Regions from separate parts of the Homo sapiens genome. Here region 2 is linked to region 1. Evidence: fine-mapped expression QTL. A gene starts in region 1. The other region holds a variant in brackets. All regions are shown on one strand. Distances are from middle to middle.

The links. PIP is the estimated chance that this variant, and not a neighbour inherited with it, causes the effect.
Region 2: its variant is fine-mapped to the expression of CRCP in hypothalamus (GTEx, PIP 0.93).

What each region holds. Positions count from the first base shown.
Region 1 is chr7:66,107,827-66,124,042 of GRCh38, reverse strand. CRCP (CGRP receptor component) reads right to left here and starts at 9,196. Exons shown (of 6, transcript NM_014478.5): 1 at 9,073-9,196. The coding sequence starts at 9,080. RefSeq lists silencers at 8,407-8,701, 10,130-10,320 and enhancers at 8,288-8,816, 9,354-9,483.
Region 2 is chr7:65,687,979-65,704,194 of GRCh38, reverse strand. The region is part of intron 3 of LINC03006 (long intergenic non-protein coding RNA 3006); the gene reads left to right. It also overlaps the pseudogene INTS4P2. Among named protein-coding and RNA genes, the nearest start is that of SNORA22, 59 kb to the left of the region's middle. RefSeq lists a silencer at 4,225-4,519. The variant G/C (reference allele first, on the strand shown) is at 5,793.

The sequences.
Region 1 (16,216 bases):
GACGGAGTCTCACTCTGTCACCCAGGCTGGAGTGCAGTGGCGCGATCTCGGCTCACTGCAAGCTCCGCCTCCCGGGTTCACGCCATTCTCCTGCCTCAGCCTCTGGAGTAGCTGGGACTACAGGCGCCAGCCACCACGCCCGGCTCATTTTTTTAGTACAGACGGGATTTCACCATGTTAGCCAGGATGGTCTCGATCTCCTGACCTTATGATCCGCCCGCCTCGGCCTCCCAAAGTGCTGGGATTACAGGCCTCAGCCACTGCGCCCGGCCCCCCCACCTTTTTTTTTTTTTGAGACAAGAGTTTCGCTCTTGTTGCCCAGGCTGGAGTGCAATGGCATGATCTCAGCTCACCATAACCTCCACTTCCCGAGTTCAAGCGATTCTCCTGCCTCAGCCTCCCAAGTAGCTGGTATTACAGGCATGAGCCACCACACCTGGCTAATTTTGTATTTTTAGTAGAGACGGGGTTTCTCCATGTTGGTCAGGCTGGTCTCAAACTCCTGACCTCAGGTGATCTGACCGCTTTGCCCTCCCAAAGTACTGGGATTACAGGCGTGAGCCACCATACCAGGCATCTAAAAGTTTTTTAGAGCTATTAGAACTTAATAGACACATCTAGCAATTATAAACGTAGAAGCTGTTGATCTCTACAAAGCAGGAACTGTCTGCTCTACAGCTAACACTTTAGTATTATGTAATATATTCACATGCAATCAGACTTCTAGAAACTGCTTACCTATACAAAACTTCATATTCTCCTGTAGGACTTAGAATAGTACTCATTTTACGCCAGGCGCAGTGGCTCACACCTGTAATCCCGGCACTTTGGGAGGCCAAGTCGGGCGCATCACGAGATCAGGAGATCAAGACCATCCTGGCTAACACGGTGAAACCCCGTCTCTACTAAAAATACAAAAAATTAGCCGGGCGTAGTGGCGGGCGCCTGTAATCCCAGCTACTCAGGAGGCTGAGGCAGGAGAATGGCGTGAACCCGGGAGGCGGAGCTTACAGTGTGCCGAGATGGGGCTACTGCACTCCAGCCTGGGCGACAGAGCGAGACTCCATCTCAAAAAAAAAAAAAAAAAGAAAGAAAGAAAGAATAGTACTCATTTTATTGACATGTGTTTAAAGCAAATACTCTAAGTGCATTTTAAAGACTGTCTAGAAAAAAGTCCAGGGACTTGTGCACACAGAGGAGAGACCATGTGAGAACATATCAAGAAGTTTGCAATCTGCAAGCTCAGGCAAGAGGCCTCAAAAGAAACCAAACCTGCTACACCTTGATCCAGTCTCCCGAACTGTCAGAAAACAAGTGTTTGCTGTCTAAGCCACCCAGTGTCTGGTGCTTTCTAAAAGCAGCCTGGCAAATTAACATAGCAATGCTTGAGTAAAAAAAAAAACAAAACAACTGTCTAAATCTATACTACAGGCAGGCAGTTACTTAATTTCCTTAAGTAATGAATTAGATGACTGAAGCTGACTTTCCATTTGACACTTCTTGTAAAATTTGCTTAAAATGGTGAGTCAAGTGGATGTAAACAACTACTTGAGGAAACTGAATTCCAAATAAACAGAACAAAATGATCTCTTGGTGGACTTTCCTTAGAAGCAAACACATACACAAATGGCACATGCAAACAGTGCCTTTTTTTTTTTTTTTTTTTTTGAGACGGAGTCTTGCTCTGTCGCCCAGGCTGGAGTGCAGTGGCGCGATCTCAGCTCACCGCAAACTCCGCCACCCGGGTTCATGCCATTCTCCTGCCTCAGCCTCCCAAGTAGCTGGGACTACGGGCACCCACCACCACGCCCGGCTAATTTTTTGTATTTTTAGTAGAGATGGGGTTTCACTGTGTTAGCCAGGATGGTCTTGATCTCCTGACCTTGTGATCCACCCACCTCGGCCTCCCAAAGTGCTGGGATTACAGGCGTGAGCCACTGTGCCCGGCCAAACAGTGCCTATTAATTGCCACACAGTCAACTCTTACACAGGCAATGACGAAAATAATTGCTCAAATTCTCCTATGCCCAACCTATGCTATCAAGTCATGCTCTGAAAACCTAAACTCTGGTACAAGCAAACGGAGCAGCTTCTGAAGTCAATGAACAACTTAACTTGTAGCATTCTCTTGGGAGCTAGCAAATGAGTATCCTCTTTCCAGTCCTGTTACTGAGTTGTTATAGTACCTATTACCCACCTTTTCTAAATATGAGTATTTCCAGCTGTAAAAGGAAAGAAATCCTGACACTACCTCAAAAAGATGGTACAGAGGATAATGTCTATTTTCCCAATTATATATATTACGTTCAAGAATAAAAGAGTGGATACAAACTTTTCCAGCCATATAAATGATCATTTATAGACAAAGCCAAATAGCAAATACCTTATAGATAGAAATACCTAATTTTGCTATATAAATATTTTGCATGGTGGCGCATGCCTGTAGTCCCAGCTAGTCAGGAGGCTGAGGCAGAAGAATCGCTCGAATCCAGGAAGTGGAGATTGCAGTGAGCTGAGATTGCACCACTGCACTCTAGCCTAGGTGATGGAGTGAGACTCCATCTCAAAAAAAAAAAAAAATTGTATGCTTTTACTTGACGAAAATACATTTCCAAGTAATGGTCAAGAAATTTTTATTTTTAAATTGTCAATCAAATAAAGCATAAATATTCCTCCCCTTAAATAAATTTCTGGGCCAGCGCGGTGGCTCATGCCTGTAATCCCAGCACTTTCGGAGGCCGAGGCGGTAGAATCACCTGAGCTCAGGAGTTCAAGACCAGCCTGGCCAACATGATGAAACCCCATCTCTACTGAAAATACAAAAATTAGCCAGGCAGCTACCCAGTAGGCTCAGGCAGGAGGACTGCTTGAACTCGGGAGGCGGAGGTTGCAGTCAGCCGAGATTGCGCCATTGCACTCCAGCCTGGGTGACAAGAGCGAAACTCCATCTCAAAAAAAAAAGAAGAAATTTCAGGTATTATTATTATTATTATTATTATTATTATTATGTATTAGTTACTTAGTAGGTATTTCCTCAATCAGAATTTTAAAAAGTAGCAAAAACTTAGGGGAGCTGTTCATTGTGCCTCCTCACTTCAGGTTCTGGGAGTGTCTGATAGAGGTACAATATACAGGCATCCCCTGGTATTCACTGGAGATTGGTCCCAGGACCCCCACATATACTAAAATCCAAACATGCTTGTGTCCCAGAGAGCCTTGCAGAACCAGCAGCTAGGAAGCCAGCTCTCCACATACGTGGGTATATTCTCATCCCTCAAATACTATATTTTCATTCTCTGTGTTTGGTTGCAGATGTGGAACCTGCAGATATGGAGGGCCAACTGCATTTATTTTTTAAAATCTGCGTATAAGGAGATCCATGAAGTTCAAGCTCGTGTTGTTCAAGGGTCAACTGTATCTGCAACTCAAGGTTCTGCTAAAGATCCTAAGGAGCAGACTTCCAAAGGTCACGCCTCCTGTTGAAGACCAGGTGAGGACCAGAAGTTAGGCTTCCAGACCTTTCCACTCCAGGGCCCTTCCACTCCCAAATCACATGTCTATCTCAGGAAACCTCATTTTCCCATGAATTACTGGCTGCAAAATTCTTGATTGGTTACAGGAAGTCACTGACTACTTGGCAGAAGGGGACAGGCTGTTACAAGAACAAAACCCCGTGATTCAAACCATTTCACTTAGGAAAATCAGAAAATATACACGCCTAGCAACTAGGATGCTAGCTAATGAATTTATACAGTCGGCTTTCCTTAGCCTCAGGTTCCACATCCTTAGATTCAACCAACCTCAAATGAAAAACATGCAAAAAACATTTTTTTTTCTTTTTCTTTTTTTCTTTTTTTTTGAGACGGGGTCTCGCTCTATCGCCCAGGCTGGAGTGCAGTGGTGCGATCTTGGCTCACTGCAAGCTCCACCTCCCGGGTTCACGCCATTCTCCTGCCTCAGCCTCCCGATAGTAGCTGGGACTACGGGCGCCCGCCACAGCGCCCAGCTAATTTTTTCTATTTTTAGTAGAGAAGGGGTTTCACTGTGTTAGCCAGGATGGTCTCGATCTCCTGACCTCATGATCCGCCCCACTCAGCCTCCCAAAGTGCTGGGATTACAGGCATGAGCACCGGGCTGCAAAAAAAAATTTTAAGAAAATGCTACATTGTTGCTGACATGTACTATGTAGTTAGGCCTAGGATGGCTGCCTCTACACTGAACATGGATAGACTGCTTTTTGTCATTATTCCCTAAACAACACAGTACAACTACTATTTACACAGCCTTTACATTGCATCAGATATGACAAGTTGGTTGATAATCAAACAGTTTTTCCTCTGCTCTCACTCGACAACAATCAATACAGAAGACTTCTGTGACCAGATGTGTGGGGTTTTCTCTCTACCAATAAACAAGCAATCAATTCTGCAGCCAACACCAGCTGGGTACCCTCCAATCCAATTCATTTCAGACACTATCTGAAAACAGTGTGAGATTCCACAGGCTGAGGGCTCAGTCCCAGAAGACTGCCCCTACTTCAGACAGCAGTCACACAAGTCAGGGCCTCCAGAACTTCTCAACGGCGGGCTTCAAGCTGCAGTTCCCAAGACCTCCTCTTTAGGCTTCATTAATTTGCTAGAATGGCTCACAAAACACCTACTTAGGTTTACTGGTTTATTTAAAGGATATTACCAAGCATACAGATGAAGTGGTGCACAGGGTGAGGGATAGAGAGGGGGCGCAGAGCTCTATGCCCTCCCCAGGCATACCACCCTCCAGAAACTTCCACCTGTTAGACTATCCAGAAGTTCTCTTGGGCGTTTTGTAGAGATTTCATTAGAGAGATGATTGAAGCATGGCCAACCTCACAGTAATTGACTGGACAGAGAGTGTGATCTAATACTAAGACTGAGTGCAGACACCCAGCAAGGCCCATCCAGATTCTCCCTGGCCTCTGTGTGTGGTATTCCTTCCTACTGGGTAAGGGGCAGGACCCCCTCTGAAACAATCAGACGAGATAGGTCAGAGAATTTCTTTACAACCAGCTCTAAGACAGAAAGGCAGGGGATGATTAGAGGGCAAGAGACAGACAGAGCTTCTGTTTTCTGAGGCCTGCTTCTGAGGCTTAGAGTGCCCCAACATTCTAACAAAAGACTGTCTTTCACCTTTACTGCTCTGAAGCTGTCCCAAGGCCGCTTCAGGAACCTTGGACAAAGGACAAATACTTTAACAAAAGTTATGCTTACTGTTTTAGTCATTTAGGAAGTAATAAAGGCTATGGTAGTTATGAGCCAGGAACCATGGACAAAAACCGGTATTACATGTCATGGTATCATAATAAGTCATCTAGAGATGATTTAAAGTATATGGGAGAATGTGCATAGATTATATGCAAATACTACACCGTTTTATATCAGGGACTTGAGCATCTGTGAATTTTGGTATACGCAGGGGGTCCCAGAACCAATCCCCCAAAGACGCTGAGAGATGACTATATTTATGAAGCTAATAAAGTATTGTTATATTACTTTATTGAACAAGTATTTGCTGAATGCCTACTGTGTGCCAGATGCAATGCTAAGCACTAGGTGAACAGACACTGGTCCCCACCCTCCAAACAAGTAAACATACATTTATTATTGCAACTTGTAATTATTTGAGGGAAAGTAAATCAAGGTACTATGAAAGACAAAAAGAACTTATGTTAGTTAGACTTACTGAAGACGAAAGGCAACTTTGAAAAGGGACACAACCTTCAAGAACAGGTGGCCAGGTGTGGTGGCTCACGCCTGTAATCCCAGCACTTTGGGAGGCTGAGGCAGGCAAATCACCTGAGGTCAGGAATTCAAGACCAGTCTGGCCAACATGGAAACCCCGTCTCTACTAAAAATACATAAATTAGCTGGGCGTGGTGGCACACGCCTGTAATCCCAGCTACTTGGTAGGCTGAGGCAGGAGAATCTTGAACCCTGGAGGCACAGGTTGCAGTGAGCTGACATTGCGCCACTGTACTACAGCCTGGGTGACAGAGCAAGACTCCATCTCAAAAGCGAACTAAAAAAAGAACAATAAAAAGAAGAGAACAGGACGAGGGCGAGGAGGAAAGTATACCAGACAGAGGGTACCACAACGCAATGGTCCTCAGGAAGTGCTTAGAAGGTTAGAGGAGAAGGAAATACCTGTCAGTGGAAAGTGTGTGTCTGGGAGGTTGGGAGAGTGGCAAGTGGTAAGGCTGGGGAGTAGGTGAGGTTTTACAGGGTCTTGCAGGTCCTGGTAAGAGATGGAGATTTTCTCTAAGTACAATGGAAAGTCAATGAAGGGTTTTACCCAGGAGCGACATGTTCCAATCATTACTTAAGATCACTCCAGTTGCCATGTGGAGAACAGAATGGAGGCTGGGGAAGAGTGAACACTCAAAGGCTATTGCTTAATCCAGCCCAGAGGTGATGGACTACAAAGCTAACATTGGAGATGGTGAAAAGTAACTGCATTCAAAATATATTCTAGGGTGGAAACAACAGGACCACTGATGGACTGGATTTAGGGAGTGAAGAGAGAGGGCTAGATTTTTGGTCTATGCAATTGGATAGATGATGAGAAGAAGGTTAGAAACATACCTTTGAGAACCATCAGCACATAGATGGGTGAAATGACAGAGTGTGGAGAGAAAGGGTCCCAGGACTGAGCCCTAAGATACCACTCAACACTTAGACATCAAGCAAGAGAGGAACGGGACCCAGGGAAGGACACTGAAGTAGTCCTTGATGTAGGAGGAAATACGCAAAGGAACATACATCACAAGAAAAGGAAAGTTTCTAGAGTTTCTGTATTAACCACTGCTGAGAGATCAAGAAAGTTGAGGCCAGAAAATCAACCTCTGAATTTGACAAGATGGAGGGATCAGGTTTTTTTTTTTTTTTTTTTTGAGACAGTCTTGCCCTGTCACCTAGGCTGGAGTGCAGTGGCACAATTTGGTTCACTGCAACCCCTGCCTCCCGAGTTCAAGCGATTCTCCTGCCTCAGCCTCCTGAGTTACTGGGATTACAGGCGCCCACCACTACACCCAGTTAATTTTTGTATTTTTAGTAGAGAGGAGGTTATGCCATGTTGGCCAGGCTGGTCTCAAACTCCTGACCTCAGGGGATTCGCCCACTTCGGCCTCCTAAAGTGCTGCGATTATAGGCATGAGCCACCACGCCCCGCTGGTTCAGGTAATCTTAACAGTCATTCCCGTAGACCAGTGAGGATGAAAGCCCAACAGAATGGCTGAGAGAATGAGGGGCTAATCAGCACTTTCAAGAAGTTTTGTTGGGATGGGAAGCAGAAATGGAGTAAGAGGGGGACATGTATGTGGGGACGGAGGATTTTCTAAGATGAATTCTCTAAAGCAGGGTTGTATGCTCACAGGAAATGCTCTAGTAAAGAGGGAAAAATTAGTAATGATGGCTTGGACTAGAGTAAATTATATGAATAGTTTTTTAGGTTGCAGATGAAATCCCATCAGTGGGTTGCAAAATTAATTCAGTGGTTCAATTTTTTTTTTTTTTTTTTTTTAAGACAGAGCCTTACACTGTCACTCTGGCAGGAGTGTAGTGGCTCTATCTCAGCTCATTGCAGCCTCCTGGGATCAAGTGATCCTCCCATCTCAGCCTCGTAAGTAGCTGAGACTACAGGCATGAACCACCACACCCAGCTAACTTCTTAATTTTTTGCAGAGACAGGGTCTCCCTATGTTGCCCAGGCTGGTCTCCACCTCCCAGGTTCAAGTGATCCTTCTGCCTAAGCTTCCCAAAGTGCTGGGATTGCTGGTGTGAGCCACCACGGTTGGCCCCATTCATATTAATAAAAAATAGACAATATGAGAGTGTACGCCACACATTATTGTTTCATGAGCCTTTCATTTCAGTTACACAGACATATTGTGTTTAAAAAAAAATCGGAAGAGGCCAGGTGAAGTGGCTCACGCCTGCAATCCCAGGACTTTGGGAGTACAAAGCAGGAGGATCACTTGAGCTCAGGAGCTGGAGACCAGCCTGGGCTGTAGTGAGACCCTGCATCTACAAAACTTTTTTTAAAAAATTAGCGGTGAGTGATGGCGTGGGCCTGTAGTCCCAGCTACTGAAGAGGCTGAAGCAGGATTGCTTGAGTCCAGAAAGTGAGGCTGCAGTGAACCATGATTACACCCCGCCTGGGGGACAGAGCAAGACCCTGTTTCTTAAGAAAAAACAATTAATTAAAAATGTAAAAATGTGAAATGCCATAGTACATATAACCATTAAACATGAGGCAAAAGAACATAAAGGAAACTGTATCAAATAATCAGTTCAAAGAGAACACAAGATAGTAATACCTACAAATTAATATCAACCGTATAAAGCCCACATTCAGAGTAGATGCAAAATCTTCCATTTGCACCAGGCGCAACGAGCAAGCATGGAAAAGACCACGTGGAGTTAAACTGTCAGAAAATCTTTTACCCTCGCCTTGCACACACACCCACACACCCCCTGCTGTTTCTCTGGTCCCAGTCCTGGTTCACGTCCTTCCCTTCTCCACCCCAAAACCAGCCCCTTCCCTCACAGTGTTTACTGCTCCCATCAAATTCCGAGGGCAGCTCTTCCGAGGGCTCTCCAGGGGCCTACAGCTGCAAGCAGAGCTCTACCCGGCCCTGATTCGTCTCTCCTCCACCTACTTTCAGGGCGGACAGACTCAGGCCTTTATAGCCTTCTAAGTCCGGGGTCGGATACCAGACTGGGCTCCACCCCCGCACTGTGACCCAGAAACGCTGGTAAACGAATGAGAGAAGGAGGGGGCACATTGAAAGGCAGCCGGACACGGAAGTGCTCGGCCCCGCACCAGACACGGCGTGGAGGGGAAGCGAAGGTTCGGAAGGGCAAAGCGAGAGTCCCGTTCGTCCCCGTCACCACCCCGCGGCCCTCCCGGACAGGGCCGGCCCGCTGCCCTCACTCCCGTACGAGGGTCGCCCAGTCCCCACGGCTCTCGGCTCTCAGCTCTCAGCGGTCAAACCGTTGGGCTCCTCGGGCGAAAAGGGACGCGCCCGAGAAGACTTACACTTCCATGACGTCCCGCCTCGTCGCCCCTAGCTGCCAGCAGACAAAGAACCTCACACTTCACAGCTGTCTCCGCCGCCACCAACAGCGCCAAGGTGCCAGCTCCGCGCGCCAAGGTGCTCGCCGGGATCGCCGCGCTGCATGCCGGGAGCTTGGCGGACCCGGAACCTCGCGCTGCGCGTTCCCCTTTTTCGGGGGGCAGGGTGGGGGAGTGTCCCTGCATCCTTCCACCAGGCCGATTTAAGACTGCTAAGCGTTTGCGGACAGGATTATCTTGTGTTTTCTTTTCTTTTTTTCTTTAACCTTTTTTTTTTTTTGAGACGGAGTCTCGCTCTGTCGCCCAGGCTGGATCTCGGCTTACTGCAACCTCCGCCTCCTGGGTTCAAGCGATTCTCCTTCTGCCTCAGCCTCCCAAGTAGCTGGGACTACAGGCGCTTGCCACCAAGCCCGGCTAATTTTTTGTGTTTTTAGTAGAGACGGGGTTTCACCGTGTTAGCCAGGATGGTTTCAATCTCCTGACCTCGTGATCCGCCCGCCTCGGCCTCCCAAAGTCCTGGGATTACAGGCGTGAGGCACCGTGCCCAGCCTCTTTTTTTCTTTTTTGAGACAGAGTCTCGCTCTGTCACCCAGGCTGGAGTGCAGTGGCACGATCTCGGCTCACTGCAATCTCTGCCTCCCAGGTTCAAGCAATTCCCTGCCTCAGCCTCCCGAGTAGCTGGGATTACAGGCGCCCGCCATAACGCCTAGCTAATTTGTGTATTTTTTAGTAGAGACGGGGTTTCATCATCTTGGCCAGGCTAGTCTTGAACTCCTGACCTCGTGATCCACCCGCTTCGGCCTCCCAAAGTGTTGGGATTACAGGCGTGAGCCACCTCGCCGGGCTCTGTCTGTTTTCGTGGTCTAGGTTTTAACAAAGTATTAATCAGCTGAAGTTGTGAGACGTGATCGGGTTAGTGGGCCTTTGCATGTTAAAATCCCACCTCTCAGAGAGTAGTGAGGCTGGTGGCATCTGGGCTGCCAGAAACATTGCAGTTTATTTATTTATTTTTTAAGAGACAGGGTCTTGCTCTGTCGCCCAGGCTGGAATGCAGTGGTGCAATCAGAGCTCACTGCAGCCTTGAACTCCTGGGCTCAAGCAATCCTCCCACCCCAGCCTGCCAGAGTAGCTGGGACCACAGGTGCGCTCCGCTACACCTGGCTAATTTTCTTTTTTTCTTTTTCTTTTTCTTTTTTTTTTTTTTTGAGATCAGTCTCACTCTGTTGCCCAGGCTGGAGTGCAGTGTCGTGATCTCGGCTCATTGCAACCTCTGCCTCCTGGATTCAAGCAGTTCCCTGCCTCAGCCTCCCCAGTAGCTAGGATTACAGGTGCCCGCCATAATGCCCAGCTAATTTTTGTATTTTTTTAGTAGAGACGGGGTTTCACCATCTTGGCCAAGCTGGTCTTGAACTCCTGACCTTGTGATCCACCCTCATCAGCCTCCCAAAGTGTTGGGATTACAGGCGTGAGCCACTGCACCCAGCCACCTGGCTAATTTTCTAAAATAAAATTCTTTATTGTCCAAAGAGTCAGCTACAAAATTTTTTAATTTTTTTGTAGAGATGGGGGTCTCACTGTGTTGCCCAGGCTGGTCTTGAACTCCTCGCCTCAAGTGATCCTCCCACCTCCAACTCCCAAAGTGCTGGGATTACAGGTGTGAACCACCACAATAGCCTCTGTTGCCTACTTTGTAAATAATAAGGGTGTTAAATAATCCTTATAAAGTTCCTGGCACTTTATTAATTACTGTGGCAATACAACCATGACTCTCTATGAGGTACATTGCATTATTATTGACATTTTATAATTGAAGAAACTGAGGCAGACTTGGAGAGATTATGATTTACCAAAAGTCACTCATCTAGGAAGTTGTCCAGTGGGTATTGAACCCCAGCCAATCTGAACATATACAACAGATGCATTAACTAGAGACTGATGAGTGGATGAATAAAATGTGCTACATTTGTGCAATGGAAAACTACTTAAAAAGGAGGCTGGCCGGGCACGGTGGCTCACGCCTGTAATCCCAGCACTTTGGGAGGCCGAGGCGGGCAGATCACGATGTCAGGAGATCGAGACCATCCTGGCTAACAGGGTGAAACCCCGTCTCTACTAAAAATACAAAAAAAATTAGCCGGGCGTGGTGGTGGGCGCCTGTAGTCCCAGCTACTAGGGAGGCTGAGGCAGGAGAATGGCGTGAACCCAGAAGGCAGAGCTTGCAGTGAGCCAAGATCGTGCCACTGCACTCCAGCCTGGAAGACAGGGCAAGACTCTGTCTCAAAAATATAAAAATAAAAAGGAGGCCAGGCTTGATCTCAGCACTTTGGGGAGCAGAGGCAGGAGGATTTCTTGAGACAAGGAGTTCCAGAGCAGCCTGGGCAACATAGCTAGACCCCCTAACTACGAAAAGTTAGCCAGGTGTGGTGGTGAGCACCTCTAGTCCCAGCTACTGGGGAGGCTGAGGTAGGAGAATCGCTTGAGCCAGAAGGTAGAGGCTGCAGGGAACTATGATCACACCACTGCACTCCAGCCTACAGAGTGAGAGACCTTGTTGCAAAAAATATATATAGACAGACTGATAGATAAATGCTGCAAGATGGATAACCTCCCAAAACATGATGCTATTAATAAGTGAAAGAAGCCAGACACAAAATAATATATATTGCCTGGCCAGGTGGCTCACGCCTGTAATCCCAGCACTTTGGGTGGCTGAGGTGGGTGGATCATCTGAGATCAGGAGTTCAAGACCAGCCTGGCTAACATGGGGAAACCCTGTCTCTACCGAAAATACAAAAATCGCCAGGCGTGGTGGCTCACGCCTGTAATCCCAGCACTTTAGGAGACTGAGGCAGGCAGATCATGAGGTCAGTAGTTCGAGACCAGCCTAGCCAACATGGTGAAACCCCGTCTCTACTAAAAATACAAAAAGTAGCTGGGTGTGGTGGGGGGCACCTGTAATCCCAGCTACTCGGGAGACTGAGGCAGGAAAATTGCTTGAACCCAGGAGGCGGAGGTTGCAGTGAGCCGAGATCACGCCACTGCACTCCAGCCTGGGTGACAGAATGAGACTCCTTCTAGAAAAAAAAAAAAAAGAATACATATGGTATGATTCACTTTATATAGAATGTCCAAGAAGAGGCCAATCTATGGATACAGACAGAAGGCTAGGTTGGGGGCAAGGATGGGAAGTGATTGCTAATAAGTAGGGAGTTTCTCTTTGGGAAACAGAAATTGTCTAAAATTATTATAGATGGTGGTGGTGGTTGCACAACCCTGTGAATATACTGAAGACACTGAGTTGTATACTTTAAATGGCATATTGTACAGCATATTAATCCTATATTAATAAAGCTGTTAAACATTTTTTACTCTGCTGAGTGTGGTGGTCCACACCTGTAATCCCAGCACTTTGGAAGATGAAGGCAGGTGGATCGCTTGAGCCCAGTTTGAGACCAGCATGGGCAACATGGTGAAACCTCATCTTTACCAAAAAAATAGAAATTAACCAGCTTGATGGCTCGTGCCTGTAATCGTAGCTACTCAGGAGGCTGAGGCAGGAGCATCGTCTGAATCTGGGAGGCGGAGGTTGCAGATCACGCCACTGCACTCCAGCCTGGGTGACAGAGCAAGACTCCATCGCAAAATAACGACAACAAAAAAGTCATAAAATGCCACCCAGACCCAGCTGGCCTAGTTAGTGTGGAGAATTCCCTGTACCTTCGCTGAGGAGATTGGGCCCCACAAAGAAATGCTAAAGATGCCCCTTGTGTTATTCACTCAACAAGTATGTAGCCATGGCCCATCGGGGGCTGATGATACAAATGTGACTAACACACACCCTCTGCACTGGCTAGCTGACAGCCTAGTTGAGGAACCAGCTCTGGACATAAATAACCACAATGCATTGTGTTTCGACGCGATGGGCAGGGGAGGGAATGACTAATGAGGTGGAGAGGCGTCCCAAAGCCACGGGCCTTTGAAGTGGGTGAGGGAAAAGCACACGAGGCCGAGGGATTGGGTATGGGCTTCAGTGAAAAACAGCAGTGCCTCTGACAGCCCCCATGATAAAATGGCTCAGGTGTGACTTAGAGTAGGGAGTTAGCTGGGTGTTCGAATGATACCCGGTAGGCCAGGTGCGGTGGCTCATGCCTGTCATCCCATCATTTCGGGAGGCCAAGGCGGGTGGATCACTTGAGTCCAAGAGTTCAAGACCAGCCTGGCCAACATGGTGAAACCTCATCTCTACTGAAAATACAAAAATTAGCCGGGCATGGTGGCAGGCGCCTGTAATCCCAGCTACTCAGGAGACTGAGGTAGGAGAACCACTTGAGCCCGGGAAGCGGAGGTTGCAGTGAGCCGAGTAAACATTCTTTTTACTGTCTGCACCTCTGGTCCTGGATAGTCGCTGATCACCATGACAATTAAGGGTATGGACCTTAAGAAGAAAAGATTATCCTGGATTTTCTATGTGGTATCAACATAATCACATGGATCATTAAAAGCATAAAATCATTCTCACCTGATGTCAGAGCCCAAGGGAGGTGTGGCTAGGGAAGGGAAGAATGATCTGAGAGATGCAATATTCCTGCCTTTGAAGATGGAGGAAGGGGCCATGAGCCAAGGAATGTAGGTAACTGTAGAAGCTGGAAAAGGCAAGAAAACAGATTCTCCTGTGAAGCTTCCAGAAAGGACTGCAGCCCAGCTGGGTGCCACGGCTCACACCGGTAATCCCATCACTTTGGGAGCCCAAGGCAGGCGGATTACTTGAGGTCAGGAGTTTGAGATCAGCCTAGCCAACATGGTGAAACACTGTCTCTACTAAAAATTTAAAAAATTAGCTGGGTGTGGTGGCAGGCGCCTGTAATCCCAGCAACTTGGGAGGCTGAGGTAGGAGAATTGCTTGAACCCAGGAGGGGTAGGTTGCAGTGAGCCAAGATCGTGCACTCCAGGCTGGGCAACAGAGCGAGACTCTGACTCAAAAAAAAAGGACTGCAGCCCTACCAACACCTTGATTTTAACCCAGTGAGACTGATTTAGGACTTCTGTATTACTCCATTCTCACACTTCTATAAAGAAATACCTGAAGGCCGGGCATGGTGGCTCATGTCTGTAATCCCAGCACTTTGGGAGGCTGAGGCAGGCAGATCATGAGGTCAGGCGTTTAAGACCAGCCTGGCCAACATGGTGAAACCCCGTCTCTACTAAAAAATACAAAAAAAATTAGCTGGGCGTGGTGGCGCACACCTGTAATCCCAGCTACTGGGGAGGCTGAGGCAGGAGAATCTCTTCACCCAGGAGGCAGAGTTTGCAGTGAGCTGAGATTGCACCACTGCACTCCAGCCTGGGCAACACAGCAAGACTCTGTCTTAAAAAAAAAAAAAAAGGAATACCTGAGACTAAAAAAGAAAAAAGAAATACCTGAGACTAGATAATTTATAAAGAAAGGTGGTTTGGCTGGGCGTGGCGGCTCACGCCTATAATCCCAGCACTTTTGGAGGCCAAGGTGGGAGGATCACGAGGTCAGGAGATCAAGACCATCCTGTCAGTGAAAACCTGTCTCTACTAAAAAATACAAAAAATTAGCCAGGCGTGGTGGTGGGTGCCTGTAGTCCCAGCTACTTGGGAGGCTGAGGCAGGAGAAAGGTGTGAACCCAGGAGGTGGAGCTTGCAGTGAGCCGAGATTCTGCCACTGTACTCCAGCCTGGGCGACAGAGCAAGACTGTCTCAAAAAAAAAAAAAAAAAAAAAAAAAAAAGGTGGTTTAATCAGCTTACAGTTCCACAGGCTCTAGAGGAAGAAAGGCAGCATCTTCTTCTGGGGAGGACTCAGGGATCTTCTACTCATGACAAAGGTGAAGGGGAGCAGGACCAAGAGACGAGGGGAGGAGCTACACACTTATTATTATTATTACTTTATTTCTTTATTTTATTTTTGAGACAGAGTCTCGCTCTGTCACCCAGGCTGGAGTGCAAGAGTGCAGTGGCATGATCTTGGCTCATCACAACTTCCGCCTCCCAGTTTCAAGCAATTTTCCTGCCTCAGCCTCCTGAATATCTGGGATTTCAGGTGCCTGCCACCCTGCCCAGCTAATTTTTGTATTTTTAGTAGAGATGGGGGTTTCACTGTGTTGTTCAGGCGGGTCACGAACTCCTGACCTTGTGATCTGCCTGCCTTGGCCTCACAAAGTGCTGGGATTACAGGTGTGAGCCACCATGCCCAGCCCATGTCTGCAAATTCTCTGACACCCCTCATGGAGTGGAGTCTAACTCCTCCCCACCTTGAACATGGTCTAGCCTTCCTGACTTACTTCCTTTTCTTTTGAGACAGGATCTCACTGTGTATCCCAGGCTGGAGTGCAGTGGCGCAATCACGGCTCACTGCAGCCTTGACCTCCTGGGCTCTGGCGATCCTCCCACCTTAGCCTCCTGAGTAGCTGGGACCATAGGTGCTCACCACCACACCCAGCTGATTTTTTTTTTTTTTTTTTTTGAGATGGAGTAGCACTCCTGTTGCCCAGGCTGGAGGGCAATGGCGCGGTCTGAGCTCCCTGCAACCTCTGCCTCCTGGGTTCAAGCAATTCTCCTGTCTCAGGGTCCCAAGTAGCTGGAATTACAGGTGCCTGCCACCACGCCCAGCTAATTTTTGTATTTTTTTGTAGAGATGATGTTTCACCATGTTGGCCAGGCTGGTCTCAAACTCCTGACCTCAGGCGACCCGCCCACCTCGGCCTTCCAAAGTGCTGGGATTACAGGTGTGAGTCACTGCTCTCGGTAGATTTTTGTATTTTTTTGTAAAGATGGAGTTTCACCACCATTGCCCAGGCTGGTTTCGAACTCCTAGGCTCAAATGATTCTCCGATTTCAGCCTCCCAAAGTGCTGGGATTATATGTGAGAGTTACTGTGCCTGGCCAACTTACTTCTTCTAATTCTGTTTTTTTTTTTTGAGACAGAGCCTCCCTCTGTTTTCCAGGCTGGAGTGCAATGGCGCGATCTTGGCTCACTGCAGCCTCTGCCTCCCGGGTTCAAGCGATTCTCCTACCTCAGCCTCCCGAGTAGCTAGGATTGCAGGCATGTGCCACCACACCCAGCTAATTTTTGTATTTTTAGTA
Region 2 (16,216 bases), 420 kb after region 1:
GGCACAGTATTTCAGATGACCAGAGTTAAAAAGCTGGGTATACACAATTAACAACCAAAGTGATATGCATTTATACCTTTCCCTTTATGACCAATTTCTTTATAAATATGGCTCATCTGCTCATAACTGTTAGACCCACCCAAATGTTATTAGTAACCTGAGTGTTTATGCTTGCAAAAATGTATGTTATTATTGTCTGTTTTATTATATTAAGTGGTGTATAAAGTATTCTGTTGTGTTTTTATGTTTCTCAAATAAGTTCCCCTTTAAAAAATAAATATCTTTAAGTTTTTAAAACTATTTCTTCCATAATTATATTTTGGGGATTTTGATATTTTCTGGGCTGTGGTTTTCGGATTTTAGACTTTAGGGATTTTAGTCTTTTGGAATTTAAACACTTTAGGACTATGATGTTCTGGACTATCTTTTGGGATTATGATTGGCTCCCCTTCTTTTCGGTACATAACATTACACCCTAAGTATTTTGTCATGTTGTTGTATAATTCTTCATAAAGAATTAATGACTGCAGAATATACTGCTAGGTAGCTGTACCAAAAGTTATTTAGCTTTTTTCCTGTTATTAAACACACTTGCCTTGGGTTCTGGCTCTGGGCCCCTTACCTACACTGTCACTCCTTGTCATTGAATAACCAACAATTATATGTTCTTTTTAGGAGTAATCACTTCTCTTTCCTCACCATATTTTGCTACTATAGAAAAGTGGATTCTTCTCCATGGCCTCCTTGAATTCCTGGGGTTTCACAGAGGCTTGGAAAAGCCAAACAACTTTGCAAAGGGGCATGAAGGAACTTCTTGGAGTGATGAAAATGTTCTACGACTTTAAAGAACAGATGTTCTTTAAAAAAAAATTTAGTTTTTTTGAATAGTTAATACATACTTAAGGTATAGCATTCAAAGGATATACAATTAAATTAAATTAAATTAGTTCCCCTTCCTACGCCTGTGCCCTGTAGCCCTGCCACCCTGTATACCTTCCCAGAGGCAACTACTATTACCAGTTTCTTTTGAATTTTGAGATATGCCATGCATTTACAAAAAGTACTGGTTTTCTTTGCTTTCTTCTTTTTTAGGGGAGGAATGTGAGTGTGTGTGTGTTTGTGTATTACCTAACCATCTCAGCATTCATAGAAAGCTGCCTCATTACTTTTTAATAGCAACATTAAATTCTGAATAGAAATGGAAACTGTGGGAAACCTTAAGGTCTGAGTCACTTGGGAAGCTGTTTCAGAGCCGGCATAACACATCAGGTTTCACAGTAGCCTGGAAAAAACTGTCCACTGGACTATGCCACTTCCTCCCATCTCATGCTTGGTGGGTAACGTTATGATAGTTAACGATGCCTCCTGGGGACTTTGACATCAAGAAGGAGATGCCTACAAAGGGGCAAAGAGTAATTACTCTCAAAGTGATTGAAGAATTAATGTATGATATATATCACTTCTTATTCATTTGGGTTGCTTGAACTGGTCCTGGAGGGCCTACCCAAAGCATGGGAACCCAGCACAATGAAAGCCAAGACCATAGACTAGCTAAGCCCAACTGTGAAGTATGAGTTTGGTGGCCAGATGGTCTCTTCCTTTCACTTCTCTGATTTTTCTCTTGCAAGAGACAGCCCTGAAGTATTCTACTTCAGAAGCATTTGTGTTTCCTCTCCAGGAAGATTCTGCCTTCTACGACAATTATACAGAATACAGACCAACTGACTGTACATTAACTAACTGATTCCAAATGTTATTTTATTCCCCTGCCCCAGAATTGTAGCAGTTGTTCTGAAGTGCACAGAACAAGATGTAACCCAATCCAACACAATTAGCCATAAGAAATCTGAACTTCTGTACAAACAAAAATGGAAACTTGTTAGCTCTGGGAAAAATCCTGTGTCCCAGTGTTTCCTCTCTTTGTCACTTTATGCTCACAATTCTTAGGAAGCCTCAGTCTAGACATCCATCAGGAGACTACGGGCTCTAATGAGAAAGGTACACTGAGCACATTCTATGTGCACTGTACTGTGCTAGCTGTTTCCTTACTTGAGCTCACTTAATCCTCACAATATGAATTGCAATTAATCCTATTTCACTGAACAGGAAACTAAAGATCAGAATTTAAGTGGCTTGCCTAAGGTCACAGAATAAACAACAAAACGACATGAACTAGACAGAGTCAGCTCTGACTCCAAAAGTATTTTTTTAACCATATCATATTGCATCTCATTTATTTATTTGCTATTAAACTCTTTTCATTTATTTATTAATTACATCAAACACAGATGAGACCAAAACTAATTTAAAACTAGATACGGCTAGGCGCGGTGGCTCACACCTGTAATCCTAGCACTTTAGGAGGCCAAGGTGGGTGGATTGCCTGAGCTCAGGAGTTCGAGACCAGCCTGGGCAACACGGTGAAACCCCATCTCTACTAAAATACAAAAATTAGCCGGGCCTGGTGGAGTGCGCCTGTAGTCCCAGCTATTCGGGATGCTGGGGCAGGAGAATTGCTTGAACCTGGGAGGCAGAGGTTGCCGTGAACCGAGATCGCACCACTGCACTCCAGCCTGAACGACAGAGGGAGACTCCATCTCCAAAAAAGAAAACAACAACTGGATACACTGGGCCACTTTTCTTTAGATGCTATCAGGCAGAGCAAAACAGTTCCTCCCAGGAACACACACATTAGCAATCTATATGATGCCACTATGCCACTATGTGTAAACACATTTACATAGAGTGATTCTTTTTAAGCTTACACAATAGGCTGAATTAATTATTTAAATCACTATTAAAGATAGTCAAAAAGATTCTGGATGTGCAAATCAAATGCAGTTTATTTTTTTCAATCTCTTAGAATCTCTAAAAATCAAATTTATAATTATGTCTCTTAGTAGCTTAGTAGAGCAAAAAGGAATGTTAGGAAATACAACATAAATACAAAGTCTTGGTGACTTCTAAAACGCCATCTTTATTCCTGCACCTAGATGATGACAGATTACAAACGCATATTTCTACTCTTTAATTACTAGACCAGTTCCAATACTACACAATAGGCAGTCTCCCTAAAAGACAATAAAAGTTTCAAAGCAAAAAGAGGATTTTAAAGAATTCAACTAAAAAATCCCATGTTCTTCAATGGTTAGTGTGTAAAAGAATTCCCATAAGAAAAGTAGTACATTTCTTTCTATCTCTGATAAATGAAGCCCCTTCTGTTTCAGGTTATAATGAGCTATTTTACTCCAAAAGAACAATTCTCTATTATGGAACACTTCTAAGGTGATATGGTTCCTGAAACAACAGTGTGTATAGCAACAGCACTTTCATGGACTTAACACAAAAATGTAAACTTTGAAAAACAGGAGGTCACTATTCATACTGAGAAATAGCAGACAAATGACTGCAGCATTCCTTAAAAGACAATCCCCTTCAACCCTGCTAGTGAGTTTAAACATGATTACATTTATAAAATTTGATTTAGTTACAAAATGTCAAGAGCATGTCCAGTATGTTAAATAAGCCATAGTTAGTTTAAATTTTTTTTTTTTTTTTTTTGAGATGGAGTCTCGCTCTGTCGCCCAGGCTGCAGTGCAGTGGTGTGATCTCTGCTCACCACAAGCTCTGCCTCCCAGGTTCGCACCATTCTCCTGCCTCAGCCTCCCGAGTAGCTGGGACCACAGGCGCCCGCCACCACGCCTGGCTAATTTTTTGTATTTTTAGTAGAGACGGGGTTTCATCGTGTTAGCCAGGATGGTCTCCATCTCCTGAGCTCGTGATCCGCCCACCTCGGCCTCCCAAAGTGCTGGGATTACAGGCGTGAGCCACCGCGCCCGGCCAGTTAGTTTAAATTTTAAAGCAAACATCCATAAATGTCCAACTATTATCTATGTAACTGATATTCTCAAAATGCTTTTACCACATATCATTACAATCATCTTCACAACAGTTCTACAGGTGCGAGCCACAGCATCTGGCTCATAGGTGAGATCTTCATTGGGTTAAGTGGCTGTTTGGATTACAAAACAGGGCACTGTGTATGACAGTGAAATTTGTTTTACACTCATACTAACAAATACGTGGCTCCAGTCCTCATCAGAGAACCTTCTGTATGAAAGGCTAACATTTCACTCCATAACAACTCAGAAAGTGTAAGTTGTGGAGAACCCCAGGGGTCAACTGATCTAATCTCATGTGATACAGGAACCCCCTGTAAATCACTGCACATCACAGAATATGGATTTTAGAGTTGACAAAGCTGAACTCAAATCCTCGTTCTGCCTCTTCTTAGCAAATTACTTCATGTCTGCAATGATGGTTGTAAAGCATCGCAGGTGCCCTCACTGCTATGGTCCATCTGCTTCCCTTTCCAGATTTTTCACCATCCTGCCTGTGCTCCTGAATACACACTCAAGCTAGAAACACAGAGCCCCGAACTTAGGACAGTGATCTGGCCGGCCACTGCCTAGCAAGACTATCATCTCAGGAAACCCAGACCATGAAGGCGAGTACCTTCTAAGAGCCAGCACTGCAGCTGATCACCAAATTGGCTAGCTTTTGTGCCTTTTGCACTTGCTTTAGTGCCAACAGGATAAAACTGTCAAGGACAAAATCTAAATGTTTATTTACGTGGGGATGAGTCAGGAAGTAGACTTTATTTTACTGGGCTCAGGGCCAACAACCTCATTCAGTGGCCTCCAAAACTAAACACTTTGTTGAGGGAGAAGAGAAATCGCTCCACAAGAGATATAGAAAGGACTGGAATCTCCGCTTACAGAGCTGTGGACTGCCCAGAACTTACAGCAGGGTCAGCAAATTTTTTCTGTAAAAGGTAAAATAGTAACTTTATGGTCTCTGTGGCAACTACTCAGCTCTGTGATTGTAGCATGAAAGCAACTATAGACAATACCTAAACAAATGAGCGTGGCTGTGCTTCAATCAGATCTTACATACAAAAGCAGGCAACAGGCCAGCTTTGGTCCACAGGCTGTAGTCTGGTGACTCCTAGTTTAGAGTACTGTTACTGGCACATCACAGGCACACAATAAACATCAAGTATATGATTCAATGTACAGTGGCAAGAGAACAAACTGTCATGCTAAAATCATTTCAACCTTAAAAATAATTCAGCTTTCCCTATCTTTTATTGTTACTGATTACAGTGATGGTATTCAGGTGAACACTCTGCCATTTAGAATATCATTTAGCCTTAGCCTGTGCAGCTAATGCAGCTTCTTCACACCACACAGCCATCTTTGACATATTTCAACTTGTTAATGATTCATGTTCGCAGCCCTTTTGGCTGATGCTATCACTGCAAAGCAGTGATATGTGTGAGTCCATTCATTACGGTAACAAGCTTTCCCTCAAGCTTTGTTTCTTGCAATATCTATCATTTCTAGTGTGATCTCCTCCACTGATTTTTAAAAATCCAGTCAACAGTAGGATTTTCTTGTTGAACTGTGAAGGCCTGTGCTCGGTAGGGACTTTGTGAATCATCCCTGCTTGGGTCCCAGAGCTACTGGAGGGCCCATCACTGGAGTGGCTGGTGAGACCCTCCAGGGCATGAGAGTTGCTATGGGCCTCTGTGTGGCTTCTAGAGGCTTCCCAGGGGCACAAAGACTATGTGACCCAGGTGGAAGCTCGGGAGGCTCACGCTGGACACATGCTGCACACTCTGGCTCCCCTGTGGCTGCAGCTGCACCCACCTACCCAGCATTCTCCCCACGACCTGTCCAGCCCAAGCCCACGGCACTCCCAGGGGAGCCCAGGACACCCTCAACTTTTTA[G/C]TGGATTACTAGAGTATCAGACCACCCATTTATCTCTCAGTTCCTCACTCCCACCCCTGCACCCAGCAAGTCACCAAGTCCCCCAGGTGAGTAAACTGGAGCTAACAGCAGTTGGTACTTACGGCATATACTGGATTTGGCTCACTCACACGTGGTATTCCTATCTTCATCTACTGTATCTTCCTGGACTACATAAGCTGCAAAGTTAAAAACTGCATTTCTCAGATTCCCTTGAGCTAGGTTCCAGACGTGATTTATTATCAGTCAATCAAACACATTCGCATGAGTTTTGTATAGGGAACAATGTTAAGTCGGAAGAAAGGCAGAATGCAAGACACGGTTCTGGAGCCAGCAGCTTTATTGGTAGCATCCTGACTCAATAGGCAGCTTTCCTGATAATAGCAGGAACATCAGCCTCCTTGGTGGCCCACTCATTGTGTGGCTCTGGAAATCATTCCTGGATATTCCACCTAGTCTGTTTCTTTAGCTTTCCCAACAACTCTGTGAGCCATGTAACATTCTGTAATAAATTTCTTTCTGCTTAAATTAGTTAAAAGCCTCTTTTGTTTTCTGCAAATGAACCCTGAGCAATATAGTTGACTAAGATCAAACAACTACAAGTCATGCGTTGTTTAACGATGGAGATACATTCTGAGACATACACTGTTATGTGATTTTGTCTCACAAACATCACATAGAGTATATTTACACAAATCCAAATGGTATAGCCTACTACACACCTAGGCTATATGGGATAGTCTGTTGCTCCTAGGCTACAAATCTGTATAGCATGTTACTGTACTAAAGACTGTAGGCAACTGTAACACTGGTTACAATGGTAAATATTGGTAAATATGGTAAACAATGGTAAATATCTGTATATCTAAACATAAAAAAGGTACAGTAAAAATATAATCATGGGACCACCACAACGTTGTTATTCAGTGCATGACTGTATTAGCTCAGACGTTAACCAAAATGAGTCTGCCTTCAAAGCTCCATTCACTCAATCTCTATACTACACCACTGCAGTTCTGGGAGGCTGTTCTCCCTCAGGTCTCCCAGCTCTTCTAATGTCTGCTGAAGTTGGAATTCTCTTCTGCACATGGACTACGAAACTGACATGCTCAGTTATCATTTCATACTAGCTAAAGGATCTTCTCCTTTGTGAAGCATCCCTCACCACTACTACTGTGATGGGTCGGGGCCTTTCATCTGTTTTTCCACAGCATCTATGCTTCTCTTCACTGTATCATTTATCAAATTGATGATTTCTGCGTCCTGTAATAAACAGTGAGTACCTTAAGAACAAATGTCATTTCTTATTTCTCTCTACCCTCAGCAACTGGCTTATTAGAATAAACAAATAGTTAATGCTGCTAAGTGAATGAATGACCTAATATAATGGGAAAACATAACTTGGAGGATGGTTCAGTTGGCCGGCTTTATAACATGTTAAGATGCAATAATGGACAGGAAAGCATGAACAAAGTACAAAGCGCTGTTATCCACCATCATAAGTCTTTGTCTATATCCATCTTGTCTACATGGGCTCTCTAAGGGCAGAATCCTAGCTAGCTGATCTGTATCTAGCACAGAGCTTGTTTCTTAGTGTATGGAATGAAATCATCCACTAAAAATTATTAGTTGAATGTGGCTGGTGCCAAATACTCTTCCGGGCAGATCAAAAGAGATCTCAACCAAGATACAAATGATATAATATAATATTTTTCTTTCTTTCTTTTTTGTTTTGAGATGGAGTCTCACTCTGTTGCCCAGACTGGAGTGCAGTGGCATGATCTTGGCTCACTGCAAGCTCCGCCTCCCGAGTTCAAGCGACTCTTGTGCCTCAATCTCCCAAGTAGCTGGGATTACAGGCTACTATTTTTAGTAGAGACGGGGTTTCACTCAGCGGGGCTGGTCTTGAACTCCTAGCCTCAAGTGATCCTCCCGCCTCGGTCTCCCAAAGTGCTGGGATTACAGGCATGAGCCACTGCACCTGGACGATATAATATTTTTCTCTTTTAAGAGCAAACAATAAAGAATTTAAACTCATTTGCTTTTAGCAAAAGCAGTACTGTTTGCTCTTAAAAGACATAATTTTTTAATCTTTTAAGAGCAAACAATACTGCTTTTGCTAAAAGCAAATGAGTTTAAATTCTTTTCATATCATTCAGGCCATTTTGAGGAAGGTCTGGCAGAGCCTTTTGGTTGTTCCCCAATATCTTTCTCCCATTCTTCCTGAGTATTAGAGTCATCGCATGTAAACCAGGCATTAGTCACCCAGAATAAAGACTGCATGTCCTCGCTCCTTGAAGTGAGAGATGGCCATGTGACTTAAGTTCTAGTCAATGGAATGCAAGTAAAATTAGAGTGTACAACTTTTGGGAAGTGTCTTTAAACAAACCACAGGGTGGAGATGATACCTTTCTCTTCCCGTTTCCTTTTCCCCACAGGATGGAATACAGGGGGGACAGTTAGATTCTGAATTGTTAAGCAGAGCTGCTTGATGCAGAAGATGAAGACACAAGAAAGAATGAGCCTAGGCCGGGCACAGTGGCTCACGCCTGTAATTCCAGCACTTCGGGAGGCCGAGGCGGGAGGATCACTTGAGCTCAGGAGTTTGAGACCGGCCTGGCCACCATGGTGAAACCTCGACTCTACCAAAAAAAAAAAAAAAAAGCCAAAATTAGCCGGGTGTGGTGGCATATGCCTGTGGTCCCAGCTACTTGGGAGGCTGAAGTGGGAGAATCACTTGAGCCCAGGAGGCTGCAGTTGCAGTGAGCTGATATTATGCCACTGCACTCCAGCCTGGGTGACAGGGTGAGACCCTGTCTCAAAAAAAAAAAAAAAAGAATGAGCAAGCCTAGATCCTTGATGGTCATCTCAGCCCTGTCCTGCCTATGAGGAAGACTTAAACTTTGCTCCTGTTTTAGCCACTGTTACTTTGCATTTTGGTCACTCATCCTAATATATAAAATTAAAAAACTAAAAACAGGTTCTTTGTAACTATTTTGTTGTGTACTAATCATCAATCGAGTCATGAATATAAAGAGCTCTTTTAAAAAATATGTTCAAACCACAATCTAATCCAAATATAAACAGACCATAAAACCGTGTGTGAATGTAGACCAATAGAGTCAGAATATCAAGCCTAGTAACCAACACCAGAATTCAGAACAGTCAAGCTGAGTGTAACGGCACTAACTCTGTCAGATGAAGGGATGATTACCCTACCTGATGGTGAATTCCAGCAGCTCCTGGGCTCCCTGAGGGTCCAAGTGCTGAAGACTATACACTCTTTCAAGGCTCTGCTGCAGGAACTGCTGCGAAGGATCCTCTTGAGGTATGATGCTGGGAGAAACAGCTGATGACACCAGTTTTCTACCTGGTAACTAAGCAAACACAGTGGGATTATAGAGTCATTAAGTTTGGTGGCTCAGCTTTTGGTAACACACACACAAACACATAAAAGCACATTAAAAATGTGAGCTAAACAAAACAAAGGGGAAAAAAGGCTAGGAGATTCTATAAATAACATTTCTCCCCTTCCTCAGCAACAATTGGGAGTTAAAGAGAAAGAGACAAAATGCAAACATGGTCTACCCAATACAGCCACAGCTGCCAGGAGAAAAACAGAAAAGGTATAATATTTTCTATTGCTAACTGAAATAAATGGGCCAACCATAGGAAGGAGACTAAAAATTAAACTGTTGCTACATCTTTTTTTTTTTTAGACAGAGTTTCACTCTTGTTGCCTAGAGTGCAATGGTACCATCTCGGCTCACTGCAAACTCCACCTCCCAGGTTCAAGCGATTCTCTTGCCTCAGCCTCCTGAGTAGCTGGGATTAGAGGTGGCCGCCCCCAGACCCAGCTAATTTTGTATTTTTAGTAGAGACAGGGTTTCTCCATGTTGGTCAGGCTGGTCTCGAACTCCTGACCACAGGTGATCCGCCTGCCTCAGCCACCCAGACTGCTGGGATTACAGGCGTGAGCCACTGCACCCGGCCACATTTATCTTTAAAACACTATCTTATCTTTCACTTGAAGGAAGAGTAATGATTTATTCCCAAATAAACTTATATAGCATACAATTTTTTCATGAGAATAATTTTTTTTTATTTTTGGCCTAGCCCTTCAGATATTCTTACTGTTAAAAGTGGTTACCTTTTAAGATGGATGGGGAGGAGAGAGCAAAGAGTATTTCACTTTTCAATTTGTATCTACTTGTTTTTTGTTTTTTTTTTTGAGATGGAGTCTCACTCTGTCGCTCAGGCTGGAGTGCAGTGGCACAACCTTGGCTCATTGCAACCTCTGCCTCCTGGGTTCAAGCAATTCTCTTGCCACAGCTTCCCGAGTAGCTGGGACTACAGGTGCCCACCACCATGCCCAGTTAATTTTTGTATTTTTAGTAGAGATGAGGTTTCACCACGTTGGCCAGGCTGGTCGTGAACTCCTGTCCTCAGATGATCCACCCGCCTCAGCCTCCCAAAATGCTTAGATTACAGGCATGAGCCACCGCACCTGGCCTCATTTTGTATATTACTCCAAATAAAGTGATTTGGAGTCACCCAAGCAGGGATGAGTTAATGCAAATAGAGAGATTGGAAGAGTACCTGGGCCACAGCATTCACGAAGTGTTTGCTATTATTATTACGATCCATTTTTAAATTTTCTTCTTTATATCTCTAGGTTTTAAAAATAGTAAAGGTTTTATTTTTAAAAAATAAGCACTTCTGGAGAATCATGGCTATATGTAATAGTTAAAATATAACAATTTAGGCTGGGTGTGGTGGCTCATGCCTGTAATCCCAGCACTTTGGGAGGCCGAGGCAGGCAGATCACGAGGTCAGGAGATCAAGACCATCCTGGCTAACACGGTGAAACCCCGTCTCTACTAAAAAATACAAAAAATTAGCCGGGTGTGGTGGCAGGTGCCTGCAGTCCCAGCTACTCGGGAGGCTGAGGCAGGAGAATGGAGTGAACCTGGGAGGCGGAGCTTGCAGTGAGCCGAGATCGCGCCACTGCACTTCAGCCTGGGCGACACAGCGAGACTTCGTCTCAAAAGGTAATAATAATAAAAATAAATAAATAAATATATAACAATTTAAATTCTTGATCTAAAATATAATCTATTGTTCCAGGTTCCTTTCTTCTTGCCTAATATCAATAACCCAGGGACACCAAAAAAAATGAATCATCTTAAAAGGTAAAGGATACAAAAGCAAAAGTATAAAACAATGGCAAAGAGCCCAAGAGAGAAGGAGAATGAACAAACAAGTTTTCAGAGAATATATGGACTGCTTTCTACTATTTAATAACCACAAAGCACAAAAAATAAAAAGCCAAAAACAAGCTGCACACAATGGTGCTCACCTGTAATCACAGCGACTTGGGAGGCTGAGCCAGGAGGATGGCTTAAGCCCAGGAGTTTGAGACCGCCCTGGGCAACATAACAAGACCCCCATCTCAAAGGAAAACATGAACACAAATACCCCTACCCCATGCAAAATAAAAACAAGGACAACAGATGTTTTCAACATACCCTCAAGGCAGGAACAAGATGAGAAAGACTGTCTCGGAGGTAGGCATAGTGCCTGACGGTGTGATCTGAGAACAATGCTCGCATTGTTGGACAGGTTTTAGCAGCATTGAAAATAAGTACCAAAACTGCAATATCTGATAGATCACTGGGTTAAGTAAACTTGGAAGTATAAAAGGTTGGCCAGATTCTGGCACTCTCACTTTCCACCTCCAAAATCTCCATCAAGAGACTATGATTTTCTAATAATCAAAGAAATGCAAATACAAACAACAAAATACATTCCCCTACTCCACCCACACCCCCAATTACCAAAGGTTTTTAAAAATGCCAGAGACTGCCAAGAATACAAAAAAATGGAAATGATTTTGCCTATAAAGTAAGCAACTATATTGCCTATCAAAGTACATACTGGCCAGGCATGGTGGCTCACGCCTGTAATCCCAACACTTTGGGAGGCTGAGGCGGGTGGATCAGTTGAGGTCAGGAGTTTGAGACCAGCCTGGGCAACAAGGTAAAACCCCGTCTCTACTAAAAATACAAAAATTAGCCGGGAGTGGTGGCAGGCACCTGTAATCCCAGCTACTTGGGAGGCTGAGGCAGGAGAATCATTTGAATCCAGGAGGCGGAGGTTGCAGTGAGCTGGGGTGGTGCCACTGCACTCCAGCCCAAGCAACAGGTTAGGAATTTGAGACCAGCCTGGCCAACATGGTGATAACCCGTCTCTACTAAAAATACAAAAATTAGCTGGGTGTGGTAGCGGGCGCCTATAATCCCAGCTACTCAGGAGGCTGAGGCAGGAGAATTGCTTGAACCCGGGAGGCAGAGGTTTCAGTGAGCCGAGATCAAGCCACTGCACTCCAGCCTGGGTGACAGAATGAGACTCTGTCTTCAAAAAAAAAAAAAGGAAAGAAAAGCAAAGAAAAGAAAACTCAGACCACCCTAGCTACACTGCAGAAGGAGATGCCAAAGCTGCCTGCCAACACATCAGGGCCCATCCTAAGCACAGAGGATACAAGCTGGATCATCCATGTCTGGTTCAGCTGTGTCAAAAAATGGGTGGGTGCTCAGAAGCTCTGGCACCAAGGGAAGCACCAGGGTTGGATGCCGACTTCCCAGAAACTTCAAGCACCTGAAACAAACAAATAAGAATGCACATCAACAAATTAGTAAAGTTAGTCCTTTGAAAAGTACTAGGAACTGGAATCAGAAAACCTGAACTGGAATTGGAAATTCTCAACCATATACTTTTGCTAACTCTATGACTTCAGATAAGTCACCCAGTTATTCTGGAACTTGGTTAATTCATCTAAAAAAACTGGTTATTATAAAGATAAAAGAACTGTTTATTTAACCAACAGCCATTTCCCCCATCTTTCTTCCTGAGAGAGCCCTGATTTTACTCAGGTATCAGGCAGGCAGCAAAGTGCTCGGAAAAGGCAGGTCCAGCCCAAGAGCTGAACCACTATTGGTCTAAACCCATCATGGCAACCCCATTCCCATTTTCCAGTGACTGGTTTGCTGGTACGCAAGTAAGCCAGTTCTAGACAATGGAGCACGAGAGTATGCTGGCTGGGGAGCTTCTCAGGGATGTTTTTGCAAATCAAAAGAGCAATGCATGAAAGGGAATGACCCTTCCTTTCTGTCTTGAGATATTATCTTATGAGGCAGCCATCTTACAACCATGAGAAGAAAGCCGGCCGGGTGCGGTGCCTCACGCCTATAATCCCAACACTTTGTGAGGCCAAGATGGCTGGATCAGGAGGTCAAGAGATCAAGACCATCCTGGCCAACATGGTGAAACCCCATCTCTGCTAAAAATACAAAAATTAGCTGGGCATGGCGGCACGGGCCTGTAGTCCCAGCTACTCGGGAGGCTGAGGCAGGAGAATCGCTTGAACCTGGGAGGCGGAGGTTCAGTGAGCCGATATTATGCCAATGCACTCCACCCTGGCGATAAAGAGAGACTCTGTCTCAAAAAAAAAAAAAAAAAAAAAAGAGCCAAGAGAACTGCAGAGAAACCAAAGAGAGCCCTGGTAACCTGTTGAATGACCAATCCTGAAACCAACCTTCTGACCTCGTTATGAAAAAACAGACTTATTGGCTAAGATATTTTTAATCAGATTGTCTTTTTTATTTGTGGGCAAAAACATTCTAATTGATATCCTGGGTGAAGTCCTGAAATCACAGATCTGTCTGAAACTAAGTAGCCTTATGCAAGTAAATTTTTTCATCTACAAAATGAGATTAAAAGTCATTACTTCATAGAGTTGCTATATGCATTAAATAACTAACATAAAGTACTCAGCAAAGTGTCTGTCACATAGTAAGAACTCAATGTTAGCTATTATAACTACCTGAGGGCCCTTTATAAACTATAAGGAACTATACAAGCAAGGTAATTATACATTTTTATTATTGTTTATGGTTTTTTTTTTTTTTTTTTGAGACTGAGTCTTGCTCTGTTGCCCAGGCTGGCATGCAGTGGCACAATCTCGGCTCACTGCAACCTCTGCTTCCAGGGTTCAAGCGATTCTCCTGCCTTTGCCTCCCGAGTAGCTGGGATTACAGGCATGTGCCACTACGCCCAGCAGATTTTTGCATTTTTAGTAGAGATGAGGTTTCACCATGTTGGCCAGGCTGGTCTTGAACTCCTGACCTCAGGTGATCCACCCGCCCCAGCCTCCCAAAGTGCCGGGATTATAGGCGTGAGCCACTGCACCCAGCCAATTAAGTGCACCTTCTAAACCAGAACTTAATGAATAAAAAATAATAAGGCCGGGCACAGTGGCTCATGCCTGTAATCCCAGCACTTTGGGAGGCCAGGGCAGGTGGATCACCTGAGGTCAGGAGTTCAAGACCAGCCTAACCAACATGGTAAAACCCCATCTCTACTAAAAAAAAAAACAAAAATTAGTTGGGTATGGTGGCGTGCACCTATAATCCCAGTTACTCGAGAGGCTGAGGCAGGAGAATCGCTTGAACCCAGGAGGCAGAAGTTGCAGTGAGCTGAGATCACGCCACTGCATTCTAGTCAGGGTGACAGAGCGAGACTCCATCTCAAAAAAAAAAAGTAACAAAACAAAACACTATATAGGAGAAAGAGGAAATCTAATTAATTTATTTCTATACTTGTAACAGCTACCACAAGGGTTGGTGCGTAGTCAGCACACAGCAGGCACATAATATTTGCTAGGTGGATAGATGCACAAATTAGTAAGTAATCTAAAATGTGATATTCAGCTTAGGAATCAGATTCCTGAGAGCGGTTAAGTTCAATCAGGTTTCTAAAGTAAAGGCAAAATTCAGGGCCGTACCACCCTCAATCTATAAGGACGGAACAAATGTCAGCATTGTACATTTACCACATTATGCGACTCAGTGAGTAAATGGGCAAAAAAGTCATTACTTCCATATGGAGTCCCTATCAGTAGGGTACTTGGTTAAATTTTTCAGCAGCTCCACCAATGCAAGATGAATCCCTTCTTTGGTTGAAACATTAGTACAGCATAAGAGTTCATGAAGAGCCTCTCGAATATCTCTGGCTGAATCCTTTTAAAAAAAAGTAATAATAATAGTAGTTACTGTTGGTTAGCAGACTCAGCCTCTATCTACCATCCCCTTCTCCCCAGCCACCTTCCCATCTAGGGTGGCCATGTAACAAAGTATGTGGAAGTTTTTTGGATGAAATTCCTGAAATATCTTTCATTTTATTGATAAAGGACCAGAGGCAGTAGCTTTATCCCCTTTCTTCTTTAACCTTCCTTTTCCATCCTATCTGGGACTCAATCATGATGCTGAAGGTACAAGAGCCTTTTTGCAACTAGGAAAAAGGACAGGCTAAGAAGAAAGGCTAAGAGAGAGGCTGGGAATGGCCAGTTAGCAGAACACTCAGAACACACACACTTACTAAGTTTGCCATCTTATACAGGCACAGTTTGTGGCATCCCAAAGCAATTACAACAGTAACATCAAAGATCACTGATCACAGATCACTGTAACAGATGTAATAATGAAAAAGTTTGAAATATTGCAAGAATTACCAAAATGTGACACAGACATAAAGTGAGCACATGCTATTGGAAAAATGGCACTGATAGACTTGCTCAATGCATGGTTGCCGCAATCTCTCAATTTATTAAAAAAATACAATATCTGCAAAGCCCAATAAAGAGAGGTATACCTGTATGTGCTAAATGGAGGAGTGAGGGAAAGAGTCGATCTATCTGAAGTGAATTTCAAGATTTCAAGAATGAGAAATGTTAAAAGAGAGGCAAATCGAAATGTCACTCCTATCCATAAAATTCTGCAACAGTTTTCCATAATGTTAGAATAAAATCCAGACATCTTAAAATGGCCTACAAGGCTCTCCACCTCTCCCTAATCCCCTCTCAGACTTCATTTCATGCCACATTTCTACTTTCTCACTGTGGTTCACTCCTACTGGCTTTCTCTCTATTCTGCAAACACAACAAAGCTCACTTGTGTTTTAGAGCCTTCCCACTAGCTGTTGCCTCTACCTGAATTTATTCTCCCGGTCTTCACATAGCTAGCTTCTGTTTACCATTCAAGACTCAACTTGAACATCATCTCCTCAGAAAGTCTTTACTAACCACTCAAATTACAGAGAAATTCCCCATTCCTCCATCATACTGTTTATCTTCTGCAAAACATTTATCACCATCTGAAATCATTTTGTTTGTTTACTCCACCTCTCTTTAGAATATAAGTTTTATGACAGCAGGGATCCTGTCTGTTTTGATATCCCTATATTTCTAATACATAGACAGTGCTTGTTGAATAAAGAAGTGAGTTTTTCTAGGCAGGGTAGGATCTTGACATAGCAGGAAAAAAAAAAAAGGCAAATTCCACCTGGAAGGG